7 linked regions of the Homo sapiens genome follow. The protein of the gene in region 7 interacts with the protein of the main gene of each other region in a pairwise test. Each region holds a gene or a part of one and is shown on either strand. Other genes may lie near its edges. The genes, in order: GAB2, FRS3, PNCK, SYNCRIP, DDR1, RPIA and PTPN11.

Region 1 (3,500 bases), on a different chromosome or scaffold from region 7:
TTCCCTGTGTGAAACTGGAATGACTTTGCAGGCCTTTATAAACATGCTCATGTGTTATATATAAGGTGTGTATGTGTAGCATTATCATTACTGGCTGATTACCAGACTTTCTTTTCCTGCTCCAGCAAAGCCAACACCACTTGACCTGAGGAACAACACCGTCATCGATGAACTCCCCTTCAAGTCACCTATCACCAAGTCTTGGTCTAGGGCCAAGTAAGTGCGTATGTGTGGGGGTGGGAGCTTGGAGTCGGGCCATTAGGGAAAATGAGTGATGTGGTAGCTGGCCTGTGGGCCGGGACAGCTGGATTCTGATGCTAACGCTATCATTAGCTGATCATGTCTCGATGTCTTGTGGCTTGGTTTCCTCAGCTGTAAAAGAGAATAATTATACCTGCCCTATATCAGATCTTAATCTGATGGAGTGTGCAGCTCTAATGGCTGAGGTCTGGGTGTGTGAGGGTCAGGGCCCAGCTGGAGGCTAGAAACATGGCAGCAGCCATGCAGCTTCCCCAGTGTTAACTCTTCCTTCCCACAACAGCCACACCTTCAACTCCAGCTCCTCCCAGTACTGCCGCCCCATCTCCACCCAGAGCATCACCAGCACAGACTCAGGAGACAGCGAAGAGAACTATGTCCCTATGGTGAGTCCTTCGGGCTTCGCTGGAATGACGCCTTTCAAGTCCCCTGGGACCCACCCCTCAGTTCCCCACTTCCCAGCTTAGCTAACTCACCTCAGCCCAGGGACTCCTTGTATTATTCATGATTTAGTCTCCTGCTACAAACCCTTCTTGAGCACCTGTTTATCAAGCAGTAGGAGTTGTCATCAGATGTAAGGAAGACATGAGACCTGTCCCAACGAAGTCATGGTCTTCAAGAGCAGGGGCCTGCCTCTCATGACAGTGACATGGGTGGCATGATCTGTGCCCTTGGATAGGCAGTGCTGGAGGTATCTCCTCAGTGGTGGAGGTATCTCCTCAGTGGTGAGAGGCATACGTGCACATAACTCACTTTGGTGAGGCCATAATAGAGCTATCAACACAGGCAGAGGAGGATATTTCTTCCCTGAGATTTCCATTAAGGGCGTAACTGCCCAGCACCTGGTAGTCACTGCATAGATAGTGAAAGAATGAATTAACCAACCAGTAAAGCAGCCAACAAACAGAACACAGGACTATCACCTTCTCATTAGAATAAGACTTCCAGAAAGTTCTAGAGGAGGTGGTGCTCTGCTAGAGCACGAGCCTGGATGGACAGGATCCTAGAGCGTGTCATCTGAAGAAATGCGGGCTTGTGCAGCCTGGAGATGAAGCCACCCTCTTCAGATCTTGGAGGAGCTAGGCGGGGGAGCAAGCTGCTTTGGGGTGACTACCCCACTCTAGGCCACAGGTGGGAGTTTCACAGGGGCTGATTTGGTGCGACAGAAGAAAACTTTCCAGTGCATAAAGGAAATGTGCTCCTTTCTTAAGCGCCAGCAAGCAAAGGCTGGATGTCTCAGGAGAGCCACTGTTGATGAGACTTGGCCTGATGTGCTAGAAAGGAGGCAGTGTGGTACAGGGGTTAGCACAGGTTTGGAAGTCAGAAAACAGACCTGATTCCCATCACTCAACAGCTGTGCAGCCACAGGCAAAGTCACTTCTCTGAAAGTAAAGTGAACCACAGTTTCATCTTTGCTTTAAACAGTATCAACAGTAATCATACCTACCTTACAGGATTGTCATGAGGATTAAAATGAAAACATGAAAAGTCCTTAGCATGGTGCATGTGTCAGAGTAGGGCTCAGGGAAACAGTGTTCTTACTCCCAGAGGTGTTTTTCTGGGTGGTGGGTTAGTCTGTTTTCTGCAGTCACTCACAGTTTTTTCCTCCTCGTGACAGCAAAACCCAGTGTCTGCATCTCCCGTTCCCAGTGGCACGAACAGTCCTGCCCCTAAGAAGAGCACCGGCAGCGTTGATTATCTGGCCCTGGACTTCCAGCCGAGCTCCCCAAGCCCCCACCGCAAGGTGCCTGGAGTAGAGTTGGGGGGGCAGTAAGAGCTCTCAGGGTCCCGGAGGCAGAGATCATGGAGGCCAGGGTGCCTTCAACACTGAACAGCAGCACTCAGCCTCCCTCCTGCTCCAGTACCCAGCTTTTATGATGCATCTTTAGTCATAGAGCTTTCATCTAGGTCTAAAGACTCCTATTCCTGCTCTCAGAGCACAGTACCCTCAGTCAGAGAACCTCATCAGTCAGCCCATCCCCCGTGTTGTAGAGATGGGCAAATGAGTGCACAGAGATCTGATTGTCCTAAGGTTACAAAGTGAATCAGCAACAGATCCAGGAATGAGGATACTGCCTCCTGGTCCTGGGCTCTCGAGTGGGTCCAGAGCCCTGCCGTCGATACATCAGCCTTCAGAAGGGACTTCCAGGCCTGGGAAAGCCTCCCCAGGAGGCATCCTTATAGCTAAGCAGTCTAGACAGAAGGGTGCAGAGCTGTGCCTCAGCATGGTTCCCCTTCACAGGGTGGCAGTGAGCACAGCACGTAAAGTCCTGTGGCTGATGTTTGTTTGCACCTAGCAAATTCCTTCCCCTGGATGAGCGACCTGACAGAGATGGGTGGAGGCAGAGATGAAGGCCTGGACCCATCCACCAGGGCCAAGGAAGGGCCTGGGTCCTCCCAGAAGCCGGGAAGTAAGAAGGGCTGGCAGGTGCTGCTACATCCTGCAGGAGGGATGATGAGTTTGGAGTCTGAGCTTTAAAGCCCACATTCAGAAAGAGAAGCCAGGCTCCTGAGGCTGGTCAGTGGCAGGCAGAGGCCATGCTCTTCTCCCCTTCAGACAGCTCAGGAAGATCCCGTGCCCACCTTCTTCCTCCCCACCTAACTGGTAACTCACAGCTACTCCCTCTTTCCCACTCTGTCCCCTCAGCCATCTACTTCATCCGTCACCTCTGATGAGAAGGTGGACTACGTTCAGGTGGACAAGGAGAAGACCCAGGCCCTGCAGAACACCATGCAGGAGTGGACAGACGTGCGGCAGTCCTCAGAGCCTTCCAAGGGTGCCAAGCTGTGATGAGAGGGCCACCGCAGAGCCCAGGAGGCAGCATCTCCAGAGCTGGCCCTTCCCATCTCCCCTCTCCCCTCTCCCGTTCTTCCTCCCATCCACCTCCTCTCTACTCTGCCAGTCTCAGCCTTCAAAGCACTTGACATCAGGGACCCTGAACCCTTCCCCTGGGAGGTGAGGGCCTGATCAAGGCACCTCCTCTGCCCACTCGGGGCCCAGCTGTGATTTTTATCAGTAATGGCCATGCCTCCACCCACCTTAGTTAGGAGCTACTTCCAAAAAGCATCCTTCAGCCTCTTCCTGTCCTTTAGACCTGACTCTCTACCAGATGTTTGGAGGGAAGGGCTGGGGCTCTGAGCCAGATTCCACACCTCACGTTCAGTCACAGCCCTCAGCTATCTTCCCTCCGGCCACTGGGCTACCTCTCCTTCAGTCCCAGAAGACAAGTCTCACCAACCCA
Region 2 (4,089 bases), on a different chromosome or scaffold from region 7:
CCCCTCCCACCTCAGATAAGGGACAGAGCTGAACCCCTTGTCTTGCCTCCGTGCAGAGCCTCCGTGCAAGAGGGCTCAGGAGCTGGACATCCCCAACACCCGCTGCCCTGAAGGGCAGAGCCCGAGAGGACTTAGGGCTTGGGGAGGTGGAGGGATGGGAAGATTTCTGGGGACAGTGGGAGGGAGAAGGAAGGGGAGTGCCCAGTCCCGCCAACTGCCCTCTCGATAGATCCCCAGAGTTTTTCTGGAACTTGGCGGGCCCGCCTCCGGGGCTGGGACGCGGTGTTTCCCGAGTCCGCTGGGGTTCCCGGTCTGGCTGCTGGGATTTTAGGGGAGGGGACCAGGACTCCGCTGGGGTCTCACCCTCGCTGTGCGTCGCTGTCCGGGCAGTTCTGGACCGACTCTGCCGTCAGGCCCCTCACCCGGTCCCCACCCCAAGGCTTCAGCGCCCGCCCCCGTCCGCCCCCGCCCGCCCTAATAGCGCGGCCCTTCCTCTCCCACGCCCCAGCGGCCCCCGCCCGCCCCTCCCCGGCTGGTGGAGAGGGGCGGCTCAGGGAGGGGCCTGGAGCTGCAGATTGGGGGGAGGAAAAAAAAAAGGAAAACAAAACCACATTTATGGGATCTCAGGGTGGAAATGTGCGGGCTCCATGGCCTCTGCCATGCAGGTGCAAGGGCTCTCTGGCTCGGACTGCGCCCGGCAGGCATCCAGCAGACGCCGGGAGCCGCGTTTACGCTGGGTTTTCAACCATTCGCTGAATGGAAACGCCTCGCCGGGCCCGCAGCCCTGTCTCTCCGCAGTTCCCAGGTCTCCCCAAACTCTCCCTGTGGTCTCCCAGCCCCGCTCCTCCGCGTGTTTCCCTTCAGTTCTCTCCCCCTTGTCCCCAGTGGTCCCCCTGGCCCCTTCCCCTCCCCTCAACCCTCTTCCAGGTTCCATCGTCTTGCCCTTCTCCTTTCAGGTCCCTTCAGACCCTCTCCCCTTCCCTTCGTTTCTCGCCCAACCCTCCGTCCCCTTTCCGCTCCCCGGACCACCCCCAACTTTGGTGTCCTCAGCCCCGCCTCCGCGCCCCGCCTCCGCCGCAGGCTCCGCCCTGTCCCCTCCGGGCTTGCTCAGCCCCTGGCCAGGAGCGCCCTCTGGCGTCTGCGCATGCTCACTGCTCCCGACTGCAAAGTCCTCCAAAGGGACCTTCTAGGCTGCGTGCCGGTCGCCCCCGCTCGGGTCCGCCAGCCCGCAGCGTCTCGTTGGTGCTGCCGGTGACCTCCGACCCCGCGGCCGCGGGGCGGGGCGGGGCGGGGAGGCCTTAGCTCCGGGCGGGCGGCGGCTGCTGCAGCGGGACCCGGGAGCGGGGCCCGGCGCCGCCCGGGCCGCGGGGCGATGTGAGTCGGGGCGCGGCGGGGCGGGGACGAGGCGGCTTCACCGAGGCCGCGCCGCGCCGCGCCGCGCCGCGCCGCAGTCTCCACTCCCTCCCTAGGAAGCCCCGGGCGGGCGGGCAGGCGGCGGAGCACCGGGGCTGGGGGCGGGGATCCGGGGACAGCGCGCACCCAGACCTCCTCATTCCTTACGGGCATGTAGAAATTCCCCTTGACAGTCCTGTAGCCTGTCCTGCAGCCTCTGGCTCCCCCAACCCACCTCTACCCTCTCCGCCCTGGACACATCATCGCATCTCCTGGAGCCCTCAGAACCCCCTCATTCACTCAACAAATCTCCTGCTATGCCCACGGACCCACCATTTCTCTTGGATGCCCCCAAATGCTTCCACTGCCCGGAAATTCCTAGGATCCCTCATATCCCCATTCTCCTTGCACTATCCAAAATGCCCACATCCAAAATTCTTGCTCATGTTTCCCCAAACGTCCTCATACGTTTTCAGCCCCCACACCCCCCTCTCACTCCTGCCCCTGATCCATACCTATCCCAGACCAGAGGCCTCTCCCCATTTCCACTCAATGCAGTCCCTCCTCAGTGGGCTATCTGATACATCCTGATATCTTAAGGAGAAGAGATGGTGATAGGGAAATTCAGCCCCTCCCCCATCTTGCACCCTAGAGTTCTTCGTTTCAGTGCCCGCGCCGTGCCCCCGTCGGTGGCTCAAGCCCCAGTATTTTCCCAGCAACCTATCTTTAGTCTGTGCACACCTCCCTGAGCCTGCTTCTTCCTTCCAGAAAATAAGCCAGACCAAGGGGATGGGGTCCTTTTACCTGGAAGTTGTCCAAGGATGCAGGGTGCAAGGGGCCCTGGGAAGTGTTTCTCCAGAGCAGGAATGTGGGATGTCCAGGGTCTGCAGAGTCCTGGCTTGTTGACTTGTCTACCTTGGGCTCAGATATCCTGAAATTTTGGCTTACTGTTAACATTTATGTTAAAATTAGGCCTTTCAGAGCTTGGGGAGCAGAAAATCTATCAAGCTTCCAAATGCGAAATTGAAGCAGCCTGTCTTGGAAGATGAACATGTCAATTTTAGTGAAGTTTGTCTTACGTTTTTACCTCTGCAAGTTATTTAAGCTAGAAGCTCCCCAGTTTATAGATGGTTCCCCCAAAAACTAAGGCCTTAGGTGGGAGTTGGGGGGGGCGTTGACTTAAGTCTCCCAGATACTTAGTAGCAACAAAACTGACCGATATATTGGTTTCCTGAGTCTTAAACCAGTGCTGTCTCTACTATATCACAGTGTCCTTTTGAGAAAGCTCTTTGTAGAGTTAAAGTTCTCTGCAAAGGTAAGGTGATGGTTTTGGTGTTTGTTGTAACAGGACTCAGAGGGAGATCTAAAGTGACTTAAAAGGTCTTTGGTCGTCTTAGACTTCAAACTTATTGATGTTCTTGGTGTCTGTCCCTCTCAGGGCCCGTGGGGCTTGGGATTTGTGCTCCCTTTGCCCTTGATTTTACTTTCTTCATTGGTGTTTTTGTCCCATTAGGGCTGGAACAGATACCCAGGTGGGATGGACTGTTAGGTCAGTTTTCATTAACAGTTGGGGGTGAAGATAGAAGGTTTTGTTAATCAGTGTCTCTGTTTCCTATGCTAGGTGAGCCCCAGGTGTATCCCAGAGGGATCCGGGTGACTTCTCTGCAGACTGTTTGCCATGACAGCCCACCAAGGACGGGGGGAATAAAGTGGGAACCCTTCCCCATGCCCCTCCCACGGTCAGCTCCCCGATGGCCTGGGTGAGGTAAGAGCTGTGTATAGGGGTCAGTTTTATGGCGTTTCCCAAGTTGGGAGGAACAGAGGGTACAGGTCACCTGGTTGTTCAAAGCTTTACCATTCAGCAGGAGTTCTAGAAGGATAGCCAATCCTACAGACTTATTTCTTGTGACAAGTTGCAACCCCTTAAAACTTCTGCTTGGTATTGGTCCATGCATTTCTTGTTCCCTTAGGTCATTCAAGCTTGGGTGGTGTCCTCTTCATTCTAGGCACAGTCCTGACTATTGTGACATATAATCCAAGTACTGGAATCCTGGAGGGGAAGAGCCAAATAGTAAGGCCTCTGGTCTCCCCTTCAGAAAAAGGGAAGGAAACCCAGCATTTTTTTTAAATGAAGAAATATCCACTTGAGGTTATTAAAACTGCACTGTTTTAAATGTTCAGTCTTCTGAATATATCTTTATGATCACAATGTAACAACTCATTTGAAGAGGACATCAGAAAGATAAATTTGCACTGGATGTTGGGATGGTAGTAAGGGAGAAGAGAGAACTTGGATGAAGTGGAATGGATGAGGTAAAAAGGGAGGAAAAAAGAGACAGGCACAGGCCAAAGTGTCTGAGACCCCCAAGTGACAATTTCTTTGCTGAATCCAAATAAGGGGCTCGGGCTGGCACCCACCTCCATCTGCTGCAGATCACTTCTCCTGGACCCCTACTTTTCTTCCTGCCTGTGTCCCTGCCTTCCTTGTCATTACATGGGTCAGAATCCTACATACTTCTCAAGGTCCAGATCAAATGTTACCTCTGAGAAGCTCTCTCCAGCCCCCCATCGGCATTCATCCTTAACACATTGTAACTTGAATTAACGTTTATCCAATGTGTGTCTGGCCCTGGATTGAGAATGTGAAGTCTTTGAGGGGGGGTCTGTATCACACAGTCTCTTGGACAGAGTAGGTGA
Region 3 (4,088 bases), on a different chromosome or scaffold from region 7:
TGTTTTAGATGTCGGTCCCAGGAAACCATTTTCACATAGAGGAGCAGGTGGGACTGGAGTTTCTGAGTGCTGGGGTCCCTGGAGCCTTCTGCAGTGTCCTGGGAGGGGTGACTGGGAAAGGCCAGGGGGCAAGAGCTGCTAGGGGCCTTCTCAGATTTCCCAGTTTTTACACAGAGTATATATGGGAGTTGAGGTCTGGAAAAATGATTTTTTAAAAACTCTTCCTGCCCCGTGGACTCTCTTGAAGACGTCGTGTCATGCCAGGGCCCACGGTCACTTGACGGAACCCTTGTGATGCTGGCCACAACCTCATGGGACTGGATGGCGAGCAGCGAGGGGGGTCCAGTAACTGTTGGATGCAGGATTGAATTCGGTCACCCGCACTTATTTCCTGGGCTCGTCTTGGTTGGGTTCGCGGAGATACACTCTCTGGGAGCGGACGCTTTGGTGAGGAAGACCAGGCGAAGAAGGTGATTTTTGCGGTTGGACGTTCTAAAGACAGGGCAGGGTTATGCGGAGAGAATTGGCAGGGGCAGGGCGGGGGAGGCCGGTTTGAGGAGGGGACATTTGAGCCGAGATCTGATGGAACGAGGAGCCAAGCCAGGCAGATATCTGATCGAAGAACATTCCAGGCAGGGGAGCAAAGGCTAGGGCCGTCAGGAGGCCAGTGTGGCCGGGGAAGAGGTGGAGGAGGAGGGGCCAGGGCAGTCGTTAGGCCGCCCCCTAAGGACTCATGCTTTGACTTGGATTGACATAGAGAGCTGCAGGAGGGTGACATGATCTCAATAAAAGGAATGCTCTGGCTGCTGGGTAGAGAAGAAAGCGAGGGTGAGGGATTAATGGTGGAGCCAGAGGGAGCCCAGTGAGTGCCGGGAGCCCAGGGTGGCAGAGCTGTGGTGCAGGGTTGCAGGGTCCTGGAGCTAGGCATGGAGGCTGCTTTCGGGCAAGTGGCCGGGTCAGCCTGTCCTCGGAGAGGCGGTGAAGGCAGAGACTGGAAGGCAGAGAGCCTTGCCGACCTGTGGCCGAAGAGCTCTCCGGGAGACAGCCACCGGTGGTGCAAAGGCCCTGGGGCCGGCCCAGCCGGGCCGCAGCTCCGGGAGGCGGCGCGAGCGAGCAGTGGGCTGGGCGGTGGCGGCCGGCACCCGAGCCGGATCCCGGCGATTGCCTTACAAGGTGCCCTGCGGCGCCGCGGCCGCGCTGGGCCACTGCGTGCTTGGGCGGCTGGCGGGGGCGTGCGCGGAGGGGGCGGGGCCGGCGGGGCGCGGGCGGGGGGCTTGGCGCTGCGGCCACTGCGCGGCACGACGCTGCGGCACCCGCTCCAGGTCTGCACCTGCTCCGGGGCGCGGGGACGCGCGGGGCGGGGGCGCACCGGATCCGGCCCGCGGCCGCCGCAGCCTTGCGCGTCCGCAGCACACCTGTCACGCCTGGCGCGCCCCCTGCCCGCACGCGCTCGGTCCACGCAGCTCGGGACGCGGGCGGCCCAGGCTGCCAGGTCCCCCTGCTCCGCGGCGCCGAGGGCTGGGCTGCGTCTGCGGCCGCGTGGGTGGCCGCGGTCTTGGCAGGTGGCTGCGCGCGGGGGTCGCAGGTGCATCCCGGGCGGCTTGGTGGCTTGGGCAGCGGGTGCCTGTGGGCGCTGTGCCATGGGTGGCGGGTCTAGGCGGGGGTGGGGGCTTGGGCGCTGTAGATGTGTGGATGGGGGAGGGACGGCGTGGGTGAGCATGGAGCCTTCTGGAAAGCGGCCGGATGTGTGGAGGCAGAGAGGCAGCATCCAGGCGCTGGTCGCCTTCGGGGTGCGGGGGAGGGTGCGTGGGATAGCAGCTGTAGGCCTGGGATGTGGAGGCGTGTATGCGGTGGCCTCGCTGGGAGGCGTCCGTCTGGGGGTGTGGACCTGGACGGGGGAGGGGAGGGTCGAGCGCGCAGCGGCAATGGCTGAGGCCTGCCTGGCAGGGGGTGGAGGAGGAAGCTGCCCTTGCCCCCGGCGGGGCGGGGAGAGACCCCCATCACCTCTCCCCTGCCCCTGCAGACATGCTGCTGCTGAAGAAACACACGGAGGACATCAGCAGCGTCTACGAGATCCGCGAGAGGCTCGGCTCGTGAGTGTGCGCGCGCGTGTGTGATCGTGTGTGTGTGTGTGTGTGTGTGTGTGTACCTGTGTGAGATGGCATGTGTGTGTGACTACGCGAGTGGGTGTGAGATGATGTGTGTGTGTGTGAATATGTAGGGGTGTGTGAATGTGAGTGAGTCTGTGAGATGGCATGTGTGAGTGGTGGTGGGGGGTGGCACAGGGCCAGGTAGGGCCTCCCCATCTCCTTCACAGGGGGCCCTCCCCGCTCCACTCTCTCTCCCTCCTGCCTCTCCTCTCTTCCCACTTCCTTCCCACCTCCCACCGCCCCGTCTGCGGCAGGGGTGCCTTCTCCGAGGTGGTGCTGGCCCAGGAGCGGGGCTCCGCACACCTCGTGGCCCTCAAGTGCATCCCCAAGAAGGCCCTCCGGGGCAAGGAGGCCCTGGTGGAGAACGAGATCGCAGTGCTCCGTAGGTGCGCACCTCGCGGGGCCCTGGGACGGGGCATAGGTCGATGGGGGGGTGCAAGCAGTCCTTGGCTCTAGTCCAGGCCTGGCCACCAACCTTTGGGAGGCCTGGGGCAGTGCTCTCTCTGGGCCTGCACATCCCTGTGGCAAAGGGAGTGAGTTGATATTGATCTGTGCTTTTCAAATGGGCTTTAGAAGGAAGGCCGGGGCTCAGGCTGGAGCTCTGCCTTCCTGGACCGGGCAGGGGTGGCATGTGGTAGGGAATGGGGAGCAGAGGTGGGAGGAAGAGAAGAGGGAGGAGGCTTTCCCCAGGGCCTCAGGACAGAGCACCCCTTGACTCTGTTGGCCCACAGGCGCTTCCTTGCCATTGCAGGATCAGTCACCCCAACATCGTCGCTCTGGAGGATGTCCACGAGAGCCCTTCCCACCTCTACCTGGCCATGGAACTGTGAGGAGGGCCTGGGCAGGCTGTGGGAGCCGGGGAGGGACTGAGCAGTGAGTGGGGCTGAAGGCCAGGCTGAGTGCCTGGGTCAGCCAAACCCCTGGCACCCCCAGGGTGACGGGTGGCGAGCTGTTTGACCGCATCATGGAGCGCGGCTCCTACACAGAGAAGGATGCCAGCCATCTGGTGGGTCAGGTCCTTGGCGCCGTCTCCTACCTGCACAGCCTGGGGATCGTGCACCGGGACCTCAAGGTGCCTGGCTGGGGCCTCTGCACCCCACCCTCCCACCTGCCCACCTGGCCCTGCCTTTGTTTTCCCGGGAGCACGGCTGGGGCCTTTCTTGATCTCCTGCTCCACCAAGGCTCTGGGGAACCTGAGAGTGCCTAGTCCCCATCCTGTCCCAGCACCGGCACCGCGTCAGGACTGACTGGCCCTTTTCCCGGTGTCCGTGTGTCACAGCCCGAAAACCTCCTGTATGCCACGCCCTTTGAGGACTCGAAGATCATGGTCTCTGACTTTGGACTCTCCAAAATCCAGGCTGGGAACATGCTAGGCACCGCCTGTGGGACCCCTGGATATGTGGGTGAGGGACGACACCCTGAGGCTTGCTGGGAGTGGGGTGGCCTGGGGGACCCTAGACAGCCGGGAAGGCTGTTGTGCCCGTTGCCTTTGTGTGGGCCATTCCTGGGCTTGAGTAGGCCGAGCCAGTGACACTGAGCGGCATGGCTGCGTGTGTGCCTGTGCGTGCGTCTGTCTGTCTCTGGCCCCCAGCCCCAGAGCTCTTGGAGCAGAAACCCTACGGGAAGGCCGTAGATGTGTGGGCCCTGGGCGTCATCTCCTACATCCTGTGAGTGACCGCTGGGAAGGCTTGTCTCCTGCCTGCCTGCCCCTGCTGGGTTGGGGAGGGTGGGACAGCTGGATGATTCATCTGTGGGTGCCAGGCTGTGTGGGTACCCCCCCTTCTACGACGAGAGCGACCCTGAGCTCTTCAGCCAGATCCTGAGGGCCAGCTATGAGTTTGACTCTCCTTTCTGGGATGACATCTCAGAATCAGGTGAGCTTGAGGCTGGCCCGTGCTTGGAGGTGATGCAAGGGAGTGGGGACCTGACAGGCTGACC
Region 4 (3,500 bases), on a different chromosome or scaffold from region 7:
GCAACCTCCACCCCTCAGGTTCAAGTGATTCTCCTGCCTCAGCCTCCCGAGTAGCTAGGATTATAGGCGCCTGCCACCACGCTCAGGCTAATTTTTATATTTTTAGTAGAGATGGGGTTTCGCCATGTTGGCCAGGCTGGTCTCGAACTCCTGACCTCCGGTGATCCACTCGCTTCGGCCTCCCAAAGTCCTGGGATTTTAGACGTGAGCCACCACGCCTGGCTAGAAAGAAATTTTAATATTTTAAATTATAGTTTATGTAAGTCCTTTAAACTAGTTTTATTAAGTTCTGTGACAGAAGTGGTTTCTGCATTTTATAGTTGAAGAGTTGGGGGCTAATTTAAACCCATAGAATGTATCAAGCAACACGACTGGGGAGAACTTTTGTACAAGATAGCTCACTATGCCATGTTTGTTAAATTTGCTTTATCTGGCTTACGTATCCTGTGGGTAATTCCAGACAAACTTAAAATCTTCAGACTCATTTTTTTTTCCCTCCCTCCTGAGTTTTACCCCTTCCTTTACCATGAGGTTTATCACTTTAAGCAAGCCTTAAAGAGAAAAATAAAACTCATAAGTCTTCCTTTTCTTTTTTTTTTTTTTTTTTTTTTTGGGAGATAGAATCTCACTCTGTCACCTAGACAGCAGGAGTGCCATGGTGCGATCTTGGCTCACTGCAACCTCCGCCTCCCAGGTTCAAGCGATTCTCCTGCCTCAGCCTCTCCGGTAGCTGGGATTACAGGCATTTATCACCACACCTGGCTAAATTTTGTATTTTTAGTAGAGACAGGGTTTCACCATGTTGGCCAGGCTGGTCATGAACTCTTGACCTCAGAAGATATGCCTGCCTCAGCCCCGCAAAGTGCTGGGATTGCAGACGTGTGCCACTGCACCCGGCCAAGTCTTCCTTTTCTATGTTGTGTGAATATTCCCCACTGGTTTGCATAATTGAGTATGATGGAAGTTAAACAGTACAAAATTATGTTACTTGAAAGAATATAAGCCTTTACAAAGAGAATTTGAGAATTTAGATATTTTCAAATCATGTCTGATTTTTCTCTTCATAAAAGAGTGCTTTGTGTTTTAGAGGGAATTCAGATTTACTGGTAACCTTTGAGTTGTCAAAATTTTAGTTTCAGCAGTTCAATTTGAGGGGAGGGGCATTTTAGAGCTCTAGAAAGAGGTACCTTAGAAATCCTTTAGTTTGTTTTTATGATTTGTTTTTTGAGACAAAGTCTCTGTCACCCACGCTGGAGTGTGTGGGCATGATCTTGGCTCACTGTAATCTCTGCCTCCTGGGCTCAGGCAATTCTCCTGCCTCAGCCACCCGAGTAGCTGGGATAATAGGCGCGTACCACCACACCTGACTAATTTTTGTATATTTGGTAGAGATGGGGTTATGTTGGCCAGGCCGGTCTTGAACTCCAGACCTCAAGTAATCTGCCCGCCTTGGCCTCCCAAAGTGCTGGGATGACAGGCATGAGCCACTGTGCCTGGCAGGTTGGTCTTGAACTCATGGTCTCAAGCAGTCCTCCTACCTCGGCTTCCCAAAGTGCAAGGATTACTGGCATGAGCCACCTTGCCTGTCCCAAAATCCTTTAATCTCCTATAAAAGAGTAGAATATTTTTGCCAAGTAGCAATAAAGTAGCAGTAAGTGAAAATGCAGAATGATCCAGTAAGCAATGAGGTATCATAACTACAGAAAGCTAATACAGTGGGCTCTCTCTACTGTGGGTCCTGCATTCACAGTTTCAGCTAGCTGAGGATTGAAGATACTCCCAAAAAACCCAATAAAAAAAAAAAACAACACACCAGTGTATGAGAGAATGTTCGTAGGTTATGTGCAAACACTATGCTATTTAAGAGAGTTGAGCATTCATGGATTTTGGTATGGGTTCCTGGAATCAGTCCCCCGTATGTGCTGAGGGACCACTGCAGAATTTAGCTAGTGGTGTCATCCATTTTTTAACATTATGAAAAAGAATCATTAAACTGACATCGTAGGTTACCTAATTCTTGCCGTCAAAATGTACCAATTATGGTAGGTGACCACTATAACTTATTTATAGATGTTTTCCAGAAACTTTACAGTAAAGATACATCATTAGAGGAAGATGGTTTATAATCCATTAGTAACAGTGATTTCGAGTGCCAGTAGACACTAGGAAATGTTTCCATTTGTACAATTGCCTTGTTTAATAAATACGTTAAATTATAAAATTGCATTGCTGTAGGTTGCTTAGAATATAGTCTTATTAATATAGTTTTTAAATATAATGGAGAAACTTCTATAGATAAGCATTCTTTTTGATTGGCGTAGGAATTAACCCTTGTCCTAAAACTTTCTACATTTCTTTCTGGGTTTCTCTGTTGTGATTTGAATCCTTTTCTGGGGGCATAATTATTTTGTACTATCTAATTAATAGGAGACTTTGCATTTTGTTGTCTTTTAAAAGATACTTTTGGCAGGGTGTGGTTGCTCACACCTGTAGTCCCAGCACTTTGGTAGGCTGAGGTGCAAGGATTGATTGAAACCAGCCTGGGAAACATAGACCCCATCTGTACCAAAAAGTAACAGATTAGCCAGGCAGCGTGCACCTGTGGTCCCAGGAGGTCAAGGCTGCAATGACCTGTGATCATGCCACTGCACTCCAGCCTGGGCAACAGAGACCCTGTCTCAAAAAACCAAAAAGGGGGAAAAAAAAAATTTCCAATGGTAGGTATTGGTATACAGCCAGTAGGATATATTGGTCATACCATCATTTGCTTTTTTTGACTTTTTAGTAAGTTTTTTTGAAACGGAGTCTCCCTCTGTTGCCCAGGCTGGGGTGCAGTGGTGTGATCTCAACTCACTGCAACCTCTGCCTTCTGGGTTCAAGTGATTCTTCTGTTTCAGCCCCCTGAGTAGCTGGGATTACAGGTGCACACCACCATGCCCTACTGATTTTTGTATTTTTAGTAGAGATGGGGTTTCACCCTGTTGGCCAGGCTGGTCTCAAACTCCTGACCCCAGTCTCGGCCTCGGCTTCCCAAAGTGCTGGGAGTACAGGTGTGAGCCACCACACCCAGCCTACTTTTAAGTAAATTGTTTATTTTATTTATTTATTTATTTATTTATTTATTTGTTTTTGAGATGGAGTCTCACTCTGTTGCCCAGGCTGGAGTGCAGTGGTGCAATCTCGGCTCACTGCAAGCTCTGCCTCCCGGGTTCACGCCATTCTCCTGCCTCAGCCTCCTGAGTAGCTGGTACTACAGGCACCCACCACCACACCCAGCTAATTTTTTTTGTATTTTTTTAGTAGAGACAGGGTTTCACCGTGTTAGCCAGGATGGTCTCGATCTCTTGACCTTGTGATTCACCCGCCTTGGCTTCCCAAAGTGCTGGGATTACAGGTGTGAGCCACCGCGCCCGGCCTTAAGTAAACGGTTTTAATTATTATTACTGTTTTCGGAGACAGGTTGTCACTCTGTTGCCCTTGCTGGAGTGCAGTGTCATGAT
Region 5 (3,069 bases), on a different chromosome or scaffold from region 7:
AATTTTTGTATCTTTAGTAGAGATGGGGTTTTGCTATGTTGGCCAGGTTGGTCTCGAACTCCTGGCCTCAAGTGATCTACCCACCTCAGCCTCCCAAAGTGCTGGGATTACAGGGGTGAGCCACTATGCCTGGTCCATTTTATAGGTTTTAAAACCTAATTCTGAGGAGGACTCAGTAGACCTCTACAGACTGCCAAAGGCGTTTATGGCACAAAAAAGGTTCAGCACCCCTGGCCTGACTGCATTCCTTCCAGGCCTCCACCAGAGCACCCCTCTGAGTTGAGAAGGTTCATGCACTCAGACATTCATGCATCTCCTGAGGTCCCACAGGCAAAGGCCTGGATTATCCAGAAACAGAACACAATGCTGGGCAAAACAGGTGATGGGAAATGGAATGAGGAGGCAGGAAAAAAGGAAGATGGGAAGTGGGTTGGGAAGTGGGTTCAGAGGGAGGTGCAGGAGGCAGAGTTACCAAATTCCCAAGGAACCCACTCACACAGTTGTGGAAAACTCAACCTTTATTATTACCTGCCTAGTGCAGGGGATTAAAATTGCCTCAAGCTAGGTCCATATATTAGTGTAAAAATCTGTGTCTCTCCCCCCAAAAATGTACAAACCCCAAGTGATTATAGAAAAATCAATGTGGCAGCTACACTAGAGATGTCCAACCCCAAGGCTATGGGCCGTTGCTCCCTCTTTCCCCCCAATCCCAATATTTACTCCACAGAAACGTATAGGCTTAGAGAAGTTCTAGCTACAAGACTGCAAGTGGGAAGTGGGGGTGACTGAGGGCTGGGGCGGGGCTACCCCCAGGTCCAGTGTTTCAGGTGATGGAGGAGGAAGAAGCCCAAGCTGAGGACAAGTACAGGAGCAGGCACAAGGAAACATTTTCCTCTCCTTCTTGTCCTCCTCACCCCCAGATTCTCAGCCAGTGGGGTCCAGTGTGTGACAGGGAGAGAGAAGCTGGGGGCGCAGCCACCTCTCCAGGAATCAGTGTTGTCCAGTGGGGCCCAGGTGCTCCAATGGGCCATGTCCAGTGTCTATCCTATATTTCTCCCCACCCTTCCCCAAGGGATGGCTAGAGGAGGGTGGAGAGGATCCCATCCACAGGACCAGCTGGGTGGGCGACAGGGGCTTCTAGGAAGGAAGAACAGGAAGGGGACATGAGAGTGTGTCCAGGAAGGGGAGAAGGGGCATCAGCTCCCTGGGTGGGCCCAGCCCACCTGCAGTCTCACTGCCTCTATTAGAGGTGATGGGCTGTCGGGAGGGGAAGGGCAGAGGTGCCATTGTGTCCTCTTGTTTTAGTGTCACTGGCTTCCCCTGGATCGCTCCCTGAGGGAGGGGCAGCTGGATGTGTGATTCACACCGTGTTGAGTGCATCCTCTGCCAGGAACCGATGCAGCTGGGAAAAGGGTGGTCGCTGCTCAGACTCCCGGCTCCAGCACCGAAGCATCAGCTCATATAGGCCCTGCGGGCAGGCAGGCGGCCGGGACAGGTACACCTGCATTGTGGCAGTGTGGATGAGAGTCAGGGAACAAATATTCTTTAGTCTCCAAGATGACAACTCTGCCCCTTCTGTCCCCCGCCTCGGACCCATCTTCCCTCTCCTCCACTCTGACCTGCCGGCCCTGGTCCCGGAAGAACTCCCCCGCGTTCTCGATGACCTGCTCGTCGGTGAGCTGCCCAAAGGGCTGGGCCCTACAGAGCATCAGCACCTCCCACAGGGTCACACCAAAGGCCCACACGTCACTCGCAGTCGTGAACTTCCCCTGGGATGCAGAGAAGGCAGCAAAAACAGACAGGGACATCAGGCAACGTAGACCCTCCTCCCTTCCTATTGGAAGCCCCAGATCCACTCTGGGCTCCACTCAGGCCTGATCCCTCCTGACGCCAGGCTCTCCACTCTCCTCCGCTGGCCACCTTTTCCAACTCCTCTCCCTTGGGCTCTGCCTTTCCTCTCCATGCTCTGGTCCTCTCTCCAGGGCCCTGGCCCACCTCTTCCTTCTGCTCCTCCTTCCTCTCCATCCACCCCCACTTTCTGGTCCTGACCTTCGGTCTCCCTACCCAACCCCTTCTATCTCCAGCTTCCTCGCCCAACCTCATCTCTTGAGCTCTCTGCCACCCTGTCTCCATCCCCAGTACCCACTCTTGGCTCCTGGATTCTTGCCCATCACACTGCAGCTCCTGCTTTCCCCAGTCCCTTGGGCTAGGAGAACCTCATATTATAGATGAGATTCTGTAAAATGCAACCCAGAGAAAGTGTGTGACTGATGGAGACCAGGGCTGTGAGTGGCGGCCAGTGTTCTCCCACCTGCCCTGCTCCAACCTGGCTGTCCTCGGGCTGCTCACCATGAGGATGCACTCCCAGGCCATCCAGCGGATGGGCAGCACTGCCCGGCCCTGCACACGGTAATAGTCCCCAGCATAGAGGTTCCGGCTCATGCCAAAGTCTGCGATTTTGATGGTGAAATTTTCCCCAACTAGGCAGTTCCGCGTGGCCAGGTCCCGATGTACAAAGTTGAGTGTGGCCAGATAGCGCATGCCGGAGGCGATCTGGGCTGCCACATGCAGCAGCATTGGGTAGCTGAGAAGGGAACCGACAGAAGGTCACTGGGGGCAGCTTCGCAGATTCCCATCCAGGAGAGGAGAGAGAGCCCACTCCCCGGGCCCGGTCACTCTGGCTCCCCATGTGGAGGTGGAATGCCCACGTGAGGCCAAGGGTCACTTCCCTCTCAATCTCCCAGGCCTGGCCAACACTAGGGGGCTCTTCTTTTATTGTGCTCCCCAATCTGGACTCAGAGGGGAGTGAGGGTGAGAGAAAGCAGAAGGGACGTCATGGCAGGGCCCAAGTCCCTTCACCACTCTTGCATAGTCACCTCCAGCCTTTCTGTCCATGTTCCTGGGTTAACTTGTCACACATTCCTTATCCCAGGCCCTCCTGGAACCTCTCTCCCTTCCCACCCCCACGCTCCCCTCTTTTCCTCCAGGCTGAAGCGAGGGGAGAGGAGGAGATCCCCTGGGGGAATTCTGAGCAAGGCCCAGCCTGGGTAAGCAGGTACCTGATGGTGG
Region 6 (4,263 bases), on a different chromosome or scaffold from region 7:
CATGCGCAAAGTGATAGAGGAGGGGTGGGCAGGAAACCCAATTTAGATGAGGTGGTCACTTAGACTTCTTTGGGAAGGTGGTATTTCAGCTGAGTCAGAAGGGTGGATGGAGCAAGCAATGCACAGATGGCCAGGCTGGCAGGTAGAGCATTTAAAATGGTTCAAAGGTCCTCAGGCCGGGGGTAATGGGGTAAAGCAGAGACTAGGTAACATTTACTTCATGAATCTTTTGGTGTGGGTGCTGAGGAGCATGAATAAGGTGAAAGACTCCTCCTAAGGAGATACATTAAAGGTGACATATTTGCCTAGAGTAGCCTTCAACTTTGCAGACCAACAGTAGTGGGAGTCCAGACATACTGTTCTGCATGTTAGCCAGAACCTTTTGCTATGTTCTGAATTTGGCCTAAAATGAAGGATTCAAATATCATCTCAAACAACTTTTCCTCCTACAGACTAAGGTGAAGATTCAAGAGCTCACGGCCTCAGAGGGCAAAGCATAGTTAAGAAAATCTAGGTGATAACCGGCAGTTAACAGTGGCCCATACCAGTGACTTGCGCTCACGGAAGAGTTCTGAAGGCCTGGAATGCGTTTGAAGATGAGTTCATGAGCAGACAGAAAGGATTCCACTAACAGCCGAGAAACACAAAGGTCATGTGTTTTTAGGGACCTCCAAGTGGTCGGTAAGGTTGGGGTCAGCATTAGTTTCTTTGCCTGTAAAATGGGGGCAATAAGAATTCCTCGTCCCTTAACTATTCTCAACAGCAAGAAACCTTAAAGGTAGAGAAGAAAAGATAAATCTGTTTTCACAGAAAGTCCTTGTTAGTCACGAAGGATTGCAGGATCGCTGCAGGGCACACTCATATGTGCAGAACCAGTCTCCAAATGGGCGGAGCAAGGTGCAGCTCCACCTGCTTCACCACTAGGTGCAGAAGAATGTCCACGGCAGGGGGTTCTCAACTTGTGACCTTGGGTCTGCGGGGGTCTAGATGGACTTCAGCTGGCGCCGTGTCGCATGTGAGTTTCCTGGGCTGTAGTAACCCCAAAAGGGCCGCGTCGTCTACAGAAGTGCCACTACTTGGAATTCTTGTCCATGGCCACGTTCTCACTGCTGGGAGAAACAACAGGGTCAGGTCTAACACTCCTTTCTCGGATGCATGGGCGAACAGAAATATCCCTGGGCTTCACCTAGCCGTGGCCTAAGTACACTTCCCCAGGGTAAGGAGTCACCATACTGATATTCCCGCGGCTAATGGTACTTCACAGAGCGAAGTGCCGGAGCCCGTCGCCGGCGATTGCGCATTCCGTCGCGGAGAGCATTATGGGATTGGTAGTCCAGACTGAGGCGCAGATAGGGGTTCCTCGAAGCCACAGAACTACATTTCCCAGCAAGACCCGCGCAGCAGGGCACGCAGACTGTGTGCGTAAGCGACCAGATTTCCGGGGGAGCCGGGGGCGGGACTTCAGCGGAGGCCGGAGCGAGGCGTCGGGATGCAGCGCCCCGGGCCCTTCAGCACCCTCTACGGGCGGGTCTTGGCCCCGCTGCCCGGGAGGGCCGGGGGCGCGGCCTCCGGCGGAGGAGGGAACAGCTGGGACCTCCCGGGTTCCCACGTGCGGCTGCCGGGGCGTGCACAGTCTGGGACCCGTGGCGGTGCTGGCAACACAAGCACCAGCTGCGGGGACTCCAACAGCATCTGCCCGGCCCCCTCCACGATGTCCAAGGCCGAGGAGGCCAAGAAGCTGGCGGGCCGCGCGGCTGTGGAGAACCACGTGAGGGTGAGCACTTCGAAACGTGGGGCGCGGGGCGCATGTCCTTGGCGTGATGGGCTACTGTTGCGCGTTGTGGGTGCTGCCGGGGCGCGCCTAGCTCCTGGCAGGGCGGGAGCTGAGTGAGAGGGTAGAGGGTGTGCACTTTACCCGAGTTTAGACCCCTCTTCCCTGCTCCTTAAAGACCTTTTAGATGTGGAATCGGTTGGGGGCGAATCTTCTAATACTTGAGCTTTCTAAAGACTCCTTGTCCAGCTGGAACAGTTTGCAAAGTGGAGCCTGGTGCTGTCTGATGTTTGGAATGGGGGCTAGAGGCACTTGCCTTGTGGCCTCCTTATCAATAAATGGAAAATGGTGGGCTTTGGGGCTGCGGAGAGGTTTTCATTTCTCTTTACTGACCCGGAAGCCGGCGGAGAGTTGGTTTGCTAGTGCTTTGAAATTTCAGTCGAAGGAGGTTCTGGGCTTGGTGCGCGCCGGCCCCTGAGTGTACTCTTGGAGGGAAGGGAAGACCCGGGGCTTCAAACTTCCTTCTTTCCATAGGGCTGGGTGGACTAAGTCTGGAGGATGCTGGTTTATTTTTTAAGGCGGGTCTGCAGAGATGTTTAGCTGTTATTCAGTCAGGTCGTGGTCCCTACTTGTTTGTTAAGTGGCAGGTGTGGTGCTGTTAGTGGAGTTTTTTTAATCCAAGTGGTTTTGCTGTCACCAATCAAGTATCTTAATTATAATAAGGAAGCCAAGTGGAGTATGTCTGCCCTGTGGTGTAGTTTCCTTGGTCTTATTGGCTTTTTATCTCTCGTTTCTACTTATTAGAAAGTGGTATTAGAGTCTCTTTTCTTCTCCGATAATAGTTCTTTACATTTGTTAATGCTTTACAAAATTATTTTGCTTAGATGATGTTGGATGAGCTTCACCACAGCCTGTTTGAGTGGGAGTGGACAATGTGGTAACCTGTGGCTCAGCCAGTTCTGTAGAAGGGATGTTCCAGTGTGACCTTCTACTCTTTCCACTGCTACCCTGTTCTGGTGTAGCTTGTTGTAAGTCTGATTGGCAATAGGATTTTCTATGGGGATTAACAGAGATAATGTAAAATGTGTTAATTTGACCCTACCTTTGGGATTCAGTGCCTCCGTTGTAAAATTGAGACAATAAGCTGAAATTTCAAAATATCTGCATACAGTGAATAGCTAATAGATAAATGTAATCCACATGAGAATACAATTAGAAAAGCCCCATATCTAAGTTGTCCTGTTAATGAATTTACATTAATATTTGGTGGCGCATCTCCCTGACCTTTGTGTTATAGTCATGTATTTGATTAAATAAAAATCTGCAAGCCCTGACCTTAGGCTAGAGCCCCAAAACACTGGATTCTGACCACATCATTTCATGAAGTTAGGTAATTTTGGGGAGATCTACAGTGACCTTTTGGGGGCACCTGTTAAAATCATATATGCCCTTCAGGGTTTGGCTTAAAGGCCATTTCCTCCTTTCAGTTTTTCCTTAGCATCCTAAGGAGAGGAAGATTTCTCTTCCGTGATTCTGTAGCACTTCATGCCTCTTATGTGCTTTATGTTGTATCTCATGTTTTGGTCATCTGTGTGTTCGTTTCTTCCAGCCCCTTAAAGGGTAAGCTCCTGGAGGGTAGTTAACCTTCATTTAGCATTGGTCACAGTGGGTCCTGCCCAGTACATGTTTGTTCAATTGTGTGCAGTGTGGACACAAATACGAAAGTGTTGGGGTTATTGGAGGTTCTTTGTGTAGAATCTCTGGGGAGTAGGGCTTCCTGTTCTCTAGTCCATTGGAGTTCCAATATGGTGACCACTTCCGTGTCTGAGTGGATGGAAAACATGGAGAGTTCTCAGGTGAATCCTTTGTATAGCCACCTTGGGCCCAGCTCTGTCTGTTTCTGTGGGTGTAGCCACCCAGGATGGGTCGACATGCAGAACTAGGCTCTTCTGAATGTCTGTAGCCTCATCCCTTTGTTCTCTTTGGAGCCTGGGCTTTGTTTTTTTACTAGCTTGGTTGAGGAAGCTGATGGGCAGTGGTTCTAGTTGGTTAGCAGAAGTAGTATTTCCAAAGTTACTCCATTCGACAAGCTGAGTGAAGTTCTGATGTTGCACATACATGTGGTTTAATATTGCCCATTAGAATGGGGCCACTCCTCTAGCAGGGCCTGCTTGGCAGTCTTCTGCTGTTGGGCCACCTCATAGGCAGCCTTTGGTCACCTCTGGTTGGCTTTGGCAAGGGCACTGATTTCCTGGGCCAGTCATTTGATTCCAAGGCAGCAGGGATCACATGGGTGAAGAGCTTTAGGTCTGGCAGGGCCTTGCAATTCCTGGTCTCTTTCAAAAGGCAAAGAACGAGCCTTATACAGAGCTTGTCTGATTCATCCGAATTCACCTCTGTGCCACCTGCCTGCTGGGGACTGTGAGTGACATGAATGTATGGCTAAGCTTGGTAACCAGGAATTTGGTGATTGAATTACTGTAAAGCTAGAG
Region 7 (4,254 bases):
CTGAGGAGGGGGGATGGATTGAGCCTAGGAAAACAAGGCTGCAGTGATTGCACCACTGCACTCCAGCCTGGGCAACAAAGTGAGACCCTATCTCAAAAAAACACAATAATAACAATAATAATAAAATTCTAGGGCTGGGCAGGGTGTCTCATGCCTATAATCCCAACACTTCAGGAGGCCAAGGTGAGAGGATCACTTGAACCCAGGAGTTTGAGACTGCCCTGGGCAACACAGTGAGACCCCATCTCTATTCAAACAATTTTAAAATTTTTAAAAATAAAATTCTAGGAAATGCAAACTAATACATAGTGACAGAAAGCAGAATAGTGGCTGCCTAAGAACAAAGGAAGGATTATAAAGAACATAAGGCAAAATTACCAGGGGTGATAGATGTGTTCATTATCTTGACTATGGTGGTGGTTTCCCAAGTGTATATGTATGTCAAAACTGATCAAATTGTACATTTAAATATATGCAATTAATTGCATGTCATTTATACCTCATTAAGGCTGGTTAACAAATAAAACAGGCTTATAATCCAAAAAATAATGAATCATTCAAAATTATGTGTATTATGTTCATAACCCGGCTTTTTGGGTGGTGCATAATACCAGGGCTGGAGGGGAGAAGGAATTACTCCATTTCAAACTGTCATCTTTACCACTTGCTACTTTGACTATGCCCACACTTCTATGCTTCTAAATGAACAAACTGGACAATGTAGGGTCTATTACTACCCAGACCTTTTCCCAACCCCCAGCCCCGTCTGATGTCTCCTAAAGCAGCAGATCCTTACTTGTCTGGAAGAGCAGACACCAGGAACAAAAGGCTCAATGACTATTTGACAGATTAAAGAATAGACAACTGTTTATTTAAAAGCTCCCTAAAGAATTAGAACATTTGAGGCTATACACTGTTCTGTTGAAATGCAGTTATATATTACCCAGATCTGTAAGCACTTGCCAACCGACCTGTCCAAGTCACTCACTTCCTACGAGTTCTCAGTTTTCTTTTTCTCCCCTTTTTAAATTCCAGATCCATGTATGAATAACATGCCAGGTGTGTTTGGAGGAGACATTCCTAATATTTTGAAAAATCTCATTCAGGCTGGGTACGGTGGCTCACGCCTGTAATTCCAGCACTTTGGGAGGCCAAGGCGGGCGGATCACGAGGTCAGGAGTTTGAGACCAGCCTGGCCAACATAGTGAAACCCTGTCTCTACTAAAAATACAAAAATTAGCCGGGCATAGTGGTGCGCCTGTAGTCCTAGTTACTTGGGAGGCTGAGGCAGGAGAATCGCTTGAACCTAGGAGGCGGAGATTGTGGTGAGCCGAGATTGCGCCACTGCACTCCAGCCTGGGCAACAGAGTGAGCCTCCGTCTCCAAAAAAAAAAAGAAAAAAAGAAAAGAAAATCTCATTCAAATAGCCTCAATAGCTTGAATCGTTTTTTAAATGTCTGAGACAGTGACCATAATTGAACAATCATGGAAAAGAATAGACAATGGGTCTTAAGTGTGAGTGGTATATAGAGTGACTATACAAAATAGCAGGATCACTATCTGAAAACAACAGGTCACACTACTGTTTGACAACAAAATTAAGGCTTACAAATGGTTAGCAATAGTTACAAAATAATAGAAGCAACATAGTGATTAAAAGTAGGGATTCTGTCTCCACCACCTACTAGCTGTGAGGTTAGGCAATTTACTTAACCTCTGAAACTCGGTTTACTCATCTTTACAATGGGGATAATAGTAGCCATCTGATAGGGCTGTGGTCAGAACTAAGCAAATGTTAGCTATTAGTAGTAGTATTACCCTGACCTTTCAAAGGATCTCATTAACTCACTAATCCTCCTAAGTTTCAAATCTTGTCATTTACTAGCATGTTGCTTCTGGGCCTCGGTTTCCTCATCCATAAAACGGGTACCAGTAAAGTGACCTGACTGTTAAGGTTGCAGTGAAGGATTAAATAACGAGATGCGGCTCCCTTCCTTTCCATCTCCCAAAGCGAAGATCGCAGAGGAAGGAAATACTTCTAGTGGCTGCAGATACAGTCAGTTTTTCCATTTCTGGCACGTGAGGGGTAGGAGGAAAAGAAGACACAAAGAGGCATATAAAAGGGTCAGGGGTCCTGCGTGAAGTCCCCAAATGCACGAAAGTGGCACAGTGAGCCAGAACGACTAGACCACTGGGGGCCCGGCCCCGCGCAACTCCCCTCTCGTGTCCCAAGGAGCCTCCCCAAGTGAGCAGGGTTATTTCGGAATCACCATGAGGCAATTCTCATGAGGCAATGGGTCAGGAATGCGGCGCTGAGCCTGGCCGCTGGCACCCGTGGTTCCCTCGGCGGCTCTACCTGCCCCGGGCCTGACGGGCATCCCCGGGGCTGCCGCAGCCGGAACTCGGGGAGGCAGGAAATGAATGGGGACCCGAGGGGTGGGGGCGCGGTGGGGCCGGCCCCCGGCCCCTGGAGGGCGAGGGGACGAGGAGGGAACCGGCCCCCAACCCCGACCCGGGGCGGGAGCCCGAAGCCCGGCCGGGGCGCCCCCTTCCGGACGGGGCTAACCGAACGCGGCGGTGGCCGGGCCGAGGCCCGCGCCGGGCCCCTCGGGGCTCCTCACCTCCGCGATGTCATGTTCCTCCCGCCCTCCGGCTCCGCGACGGACCCGCTCCTTGCTCAGGCTCCGCTGGGCTCGGTCACATCGGGCTGGCCCGAGGGAGGCCCGCTCGGGACCGGACGCGGGGCAGAGCCAGCCGGCCGCGCACAGACCCCCCTCCAGGCCTGGGGATCCCGGAGACTGTGCAGCTGCCCCCCGGCCCGGCTCGCTCCTCCTCCGCCCCCGCCCTTCGCCGCCGTCGCCCCCGTGATGTCACCGCTCGCGACGCCCGCCGCCACTTCCTGCTTCCCGTCAGCGGAGGACCGAGCGACGGCCGGGAATGGCAGCGCGGGGGCTCCGCGGAGGCGCCACGCACAGTGTCCAAAGCATCCTTGCTTCCTCCTGGAAACCGCGGCCGCCAGGTGTGAGCTGCGCGCTCCGCGTCTACGCCACCGACCCGTCCGGGCCCGCTGCCACATCGATTTCATTCATTTCGTTCCACAAATCGCCGCTCCACTCATTAGCTGTGGAACCTTGGGGAAATTACCTACTGTCTCCGAGCCTCGGTTTCCTCCATTCTTTTCTTTCTGTAAGATAAAGATAGTAGGCTGGGCGCGGTGGTTCACGCCCGTAATCCCAACACTTTGGGAGGCTGCGGCAAGAGGTTCGCTTAAGCCAAGGAGTTCGAGGCCAGCCTGGGCAAAAAAGCAAGACCTCATCTCTACAAAAAATGCAAAAAACTAACCGGGCGTGGAGGCTGCGGCGGGAAGATAACTTAAGCCCGAGAAGTCGGGGCTGCAGTGAGTCGTGATCACGCCACTGCACTACACCCTGAGCGACAGGGCAAGACACTGCCTAAAAAAATAATAATAGGCTGGGCGCGGTGGCTCACGCCTGTAATCCCAGCACTTTGGGAGGCCGAGGTGGGCGGATCACGAGGTCAAGAGATCGAGACCATCCTGGCCAACATGGTGAAACCCCGTCTCCACTAAAAATTCAAGAATTAGCCTGGCGTGGTGGGGGGCGCCTGTAGTCCCAGCTGCTTGGGAGTCTGAAGCAGGAGAATCGCTTGAACCCGGGAGGCAGAGGTTGCATTGAGCCGAGATCGCGCCACTGCACTCCAGCCTGGCAATAGAGCGAGACTCCGTCTCAAAATAATAATAATAATTACAATAAATACTACTTTGGGGTGGGAGCGGTGGCACACGCCTGAAATCCCAGCACTTCCCTTTGGGAGGCTGAGGCGGGCGAATCGCTTGAGTCCAGGAGTTGGGAACCAGCCCGGGCAAAATAGTGAAATCCCATCTCTACAAAAAATACAAAAATTAGCCGGGCGTGGTGGCGCGCGCCTGTAGTCCCAGCTACTCGGGAGGCTGAGGTGAGAGGATTGCTTGAGCCTGGAAGGTCGAGGCTGCTGAAAGCCGAGATCGCGCCACTGCACTCAGGCCAGGTATGGTGGCTCACGCCTTCATCCCAGAACTTTGGGAGGCTGAGGCAGGAGGATTGCTTGAGCCTAGGAGTTCAAGACCAGCCTGGGCAACATGGTGCGACCATGTCTCTTAAAAAAAAAAAAAAAAAAAAAAAAAAAAGCCGGGCCGGGTGGTACGGAAGTATTACTTTGGACACTCTGTGAAGCTCGAGCAAGAGAGCAAGGCCA

The links.
Region 1: the proteins of PTPN11 (region 7) and GAB2 interact in binary tests that used the Homo sapiens proteins (3 or more experiments, as listed by UniProt).
Region 2: the proteins of PTPN11 (region 7) and FRS3 interact in a two-hybrid assay, tested with the Homo sapiens proteins (one study listed by IntAct).
Region 3: the proteins of PTPN11 (region 7) and PNCK interact in a two-hybrid assay, tested with the Homo sapiens proteins (one large-scale study listed by BioGRID and IntAct).
Region 4: the proteins of PTPN11 (region 7) and SYNCRIP interact in a two-hybrid assay, tested with the Homo sapiens proteins (one study listed by BioGRID).
Region 5: the proteins of PTPN11 (region 7) and DDR1 interact in binary tests that used the Homo sapiens proteins (3 or more experiments, as listed by UniProt).
Region 6: the proteins of PTPN11 (region 7) and RPIA interact in binary tests that used the Homo sapiens proteins (3 or more experiments, as listed by UniProt).

Annotation. Positions count from the first base shown.
Region 1 is NC_000011.10:78,218,821-78,222,320, reverse strand, and holds part of GAB2 (GRB2-associated-binding protein 2), read left to right. Parts: exon of another isoform or gene 1-125; coding exon 126-216; exon of another isoform or gene 217-541; coding exon 542-644; exon of another isoform or gene 645-1,532; intron 1,533-1,876; coding exon 1,877-2,002; intron 2,003-2,905; coding exon 2,906-3,049; 3' UTR 3,050-3,500. UniProt on the Homo sapiens protein: Adapter protein which acts downstream of several membrane receptors including cytokine, antigen, hormone, cell matrix and growth factor receptors to regulate multiple signaling pathways.
Region 2 is NC_000006.12:41,777,101-41,781,189, reverse strand, and holds the start of FRS3 (fibroblast growth factor receptor substrate 3), read left to right. Parts: upstream 1-1,289; 5' UTR 1,290-1,374; intron 1,375-1,517; exon of another isoform or gene 1,518-2,460; intron 2,461-3,013; 5' UTR 3,014-3,157; intron 3,158-4,089. UniProt on the Homo sapiens protein: Adapter protein that links FGF and NGF receptors to downstream signaling pathways. Involved in the activation of MAP kinases. Down-regulates ERK2 signaling by interfering with the phosphorylation and nuclear translocation of ERK2.
Region 3 is NC_000023.11:153,671,014-153,675,101, reverse strand, and holds the start of PNCK (calcium/calmodulin-dependent protein kinase type 1B), read left to right. Parts: upstream 1-1,288; 5' UTR 1,289-1,322; intron 1,323-1,417; exon of another isoform or gene 1,418-1,585; intron 1,586-1,717; exon of another isoform or gene 1,718-1,802; intron 1,803-1,813; exon of another isoform or gene 1,814-1,831; coding exon of another isoform or gene 1,832-1,880; intron 1,881-2,023; coding exon of another isoform or gene 2,024-2,025; coding exon 2,026-2,093; intron 2,094-2,404; coding exon 2,405-2,536; intron 2,537-2,901; coding exon 2,902-2,976; intron 2,977-3,083; coding exon 3,084-3,222; intron 3,223-3,429; coding exon 3,430-3,553; coding exon of another isoform or gene 3,554-3,681; exon of another isoform or gene 3,682-3,741; coding exon 3,742-3,817; intron 3,818-3,911; coding exon 3,912-4,024; intron 4,025-4,088. UniProt on the Homo sapiens protein: Calcium/calmodulin-dependent protein kinase belonging to a proposed calcium-triggered signaling cascade. In vitro phosphorylates CREB1 and SYN1/synapsin I. Phosphorylates and activates CAMK1.
Region 4 is NC_000006.12:85,632,887-85,636,386, reverse strand, and holds part of SYNCRIP (heterogeneous nuclear ribonucleoprotein Q), read left to right. Parts: intron 1-3,500. UniProt on the Homo sapiens protein: Heterogenous nuclear ribonucleoprotein (hnRNP) implicated in mRNA processing mechanisms. Component of the CRD-mediated complex that promotes MYC mRNA stability.
Region 5 is NC_000006.12:30,897,588-30,900,656, reverse strand, and holds the end of DDR1 (epithelial discoidin domain-containing receptor 1 isoform 2 precursor), read right to left. Parts: coding exon 3,060-3,069; intron 2,585-3,059; coding exon 2,350-2,584; intron 1,770-2,349; coding exon 1,620-1,769; intron 1,502-1,619; coding exon 1,361-1,501; 3' UTR 501-1,360; downstream 1-500. UniProt on the Homo sapiens protein: Tyrosine kinase that functions as a cell surface receptor for fibrillar collagen and regulates cell attachment to the extracellular matrix, remodeling of the extracellular matrix, cell migration, differentiation, survival and cell proliferation.
Region 6 is NC_000002.12:88,690,210-88,694,472, forward strand, and holds the start of RPIA (ribose-5-phosphate isomerase), read left to right. Parts: upstream 1-1,463; 5' UTR 1,464-1,489; coding exon 1,490-1,774; intron 1,775-4,263. UniProt on the Homo sapiens protein: Catalyzes the reversible conversion of ribose-5-phosphate to ribulose 5-phosphate and participates in the first step of the non-oxidative branch of the pentose phosphate pathway.
Region 7 is NC_000012.12:112,417,493-112,421,746, reverse strand, and holds the start of PTPN11 (tyrosine-protein phosphatase non-receptor type 11), read right to left. Parts: upstream 2,801-4,254; 5' UTR 2,636-2,800; coding exon 2,622-2,635; intron 1-2,621. UniProt on the Homo sapiens protein: Acts downstream of various receptor and cytoplasmic protein tyrosine kinases to participate in the signal transduction from the cell surface to the nucleus. Positively regulates MAPK signal transduction pathway. Dephosphorylates GAB1, ARHGAP35 and EGFR.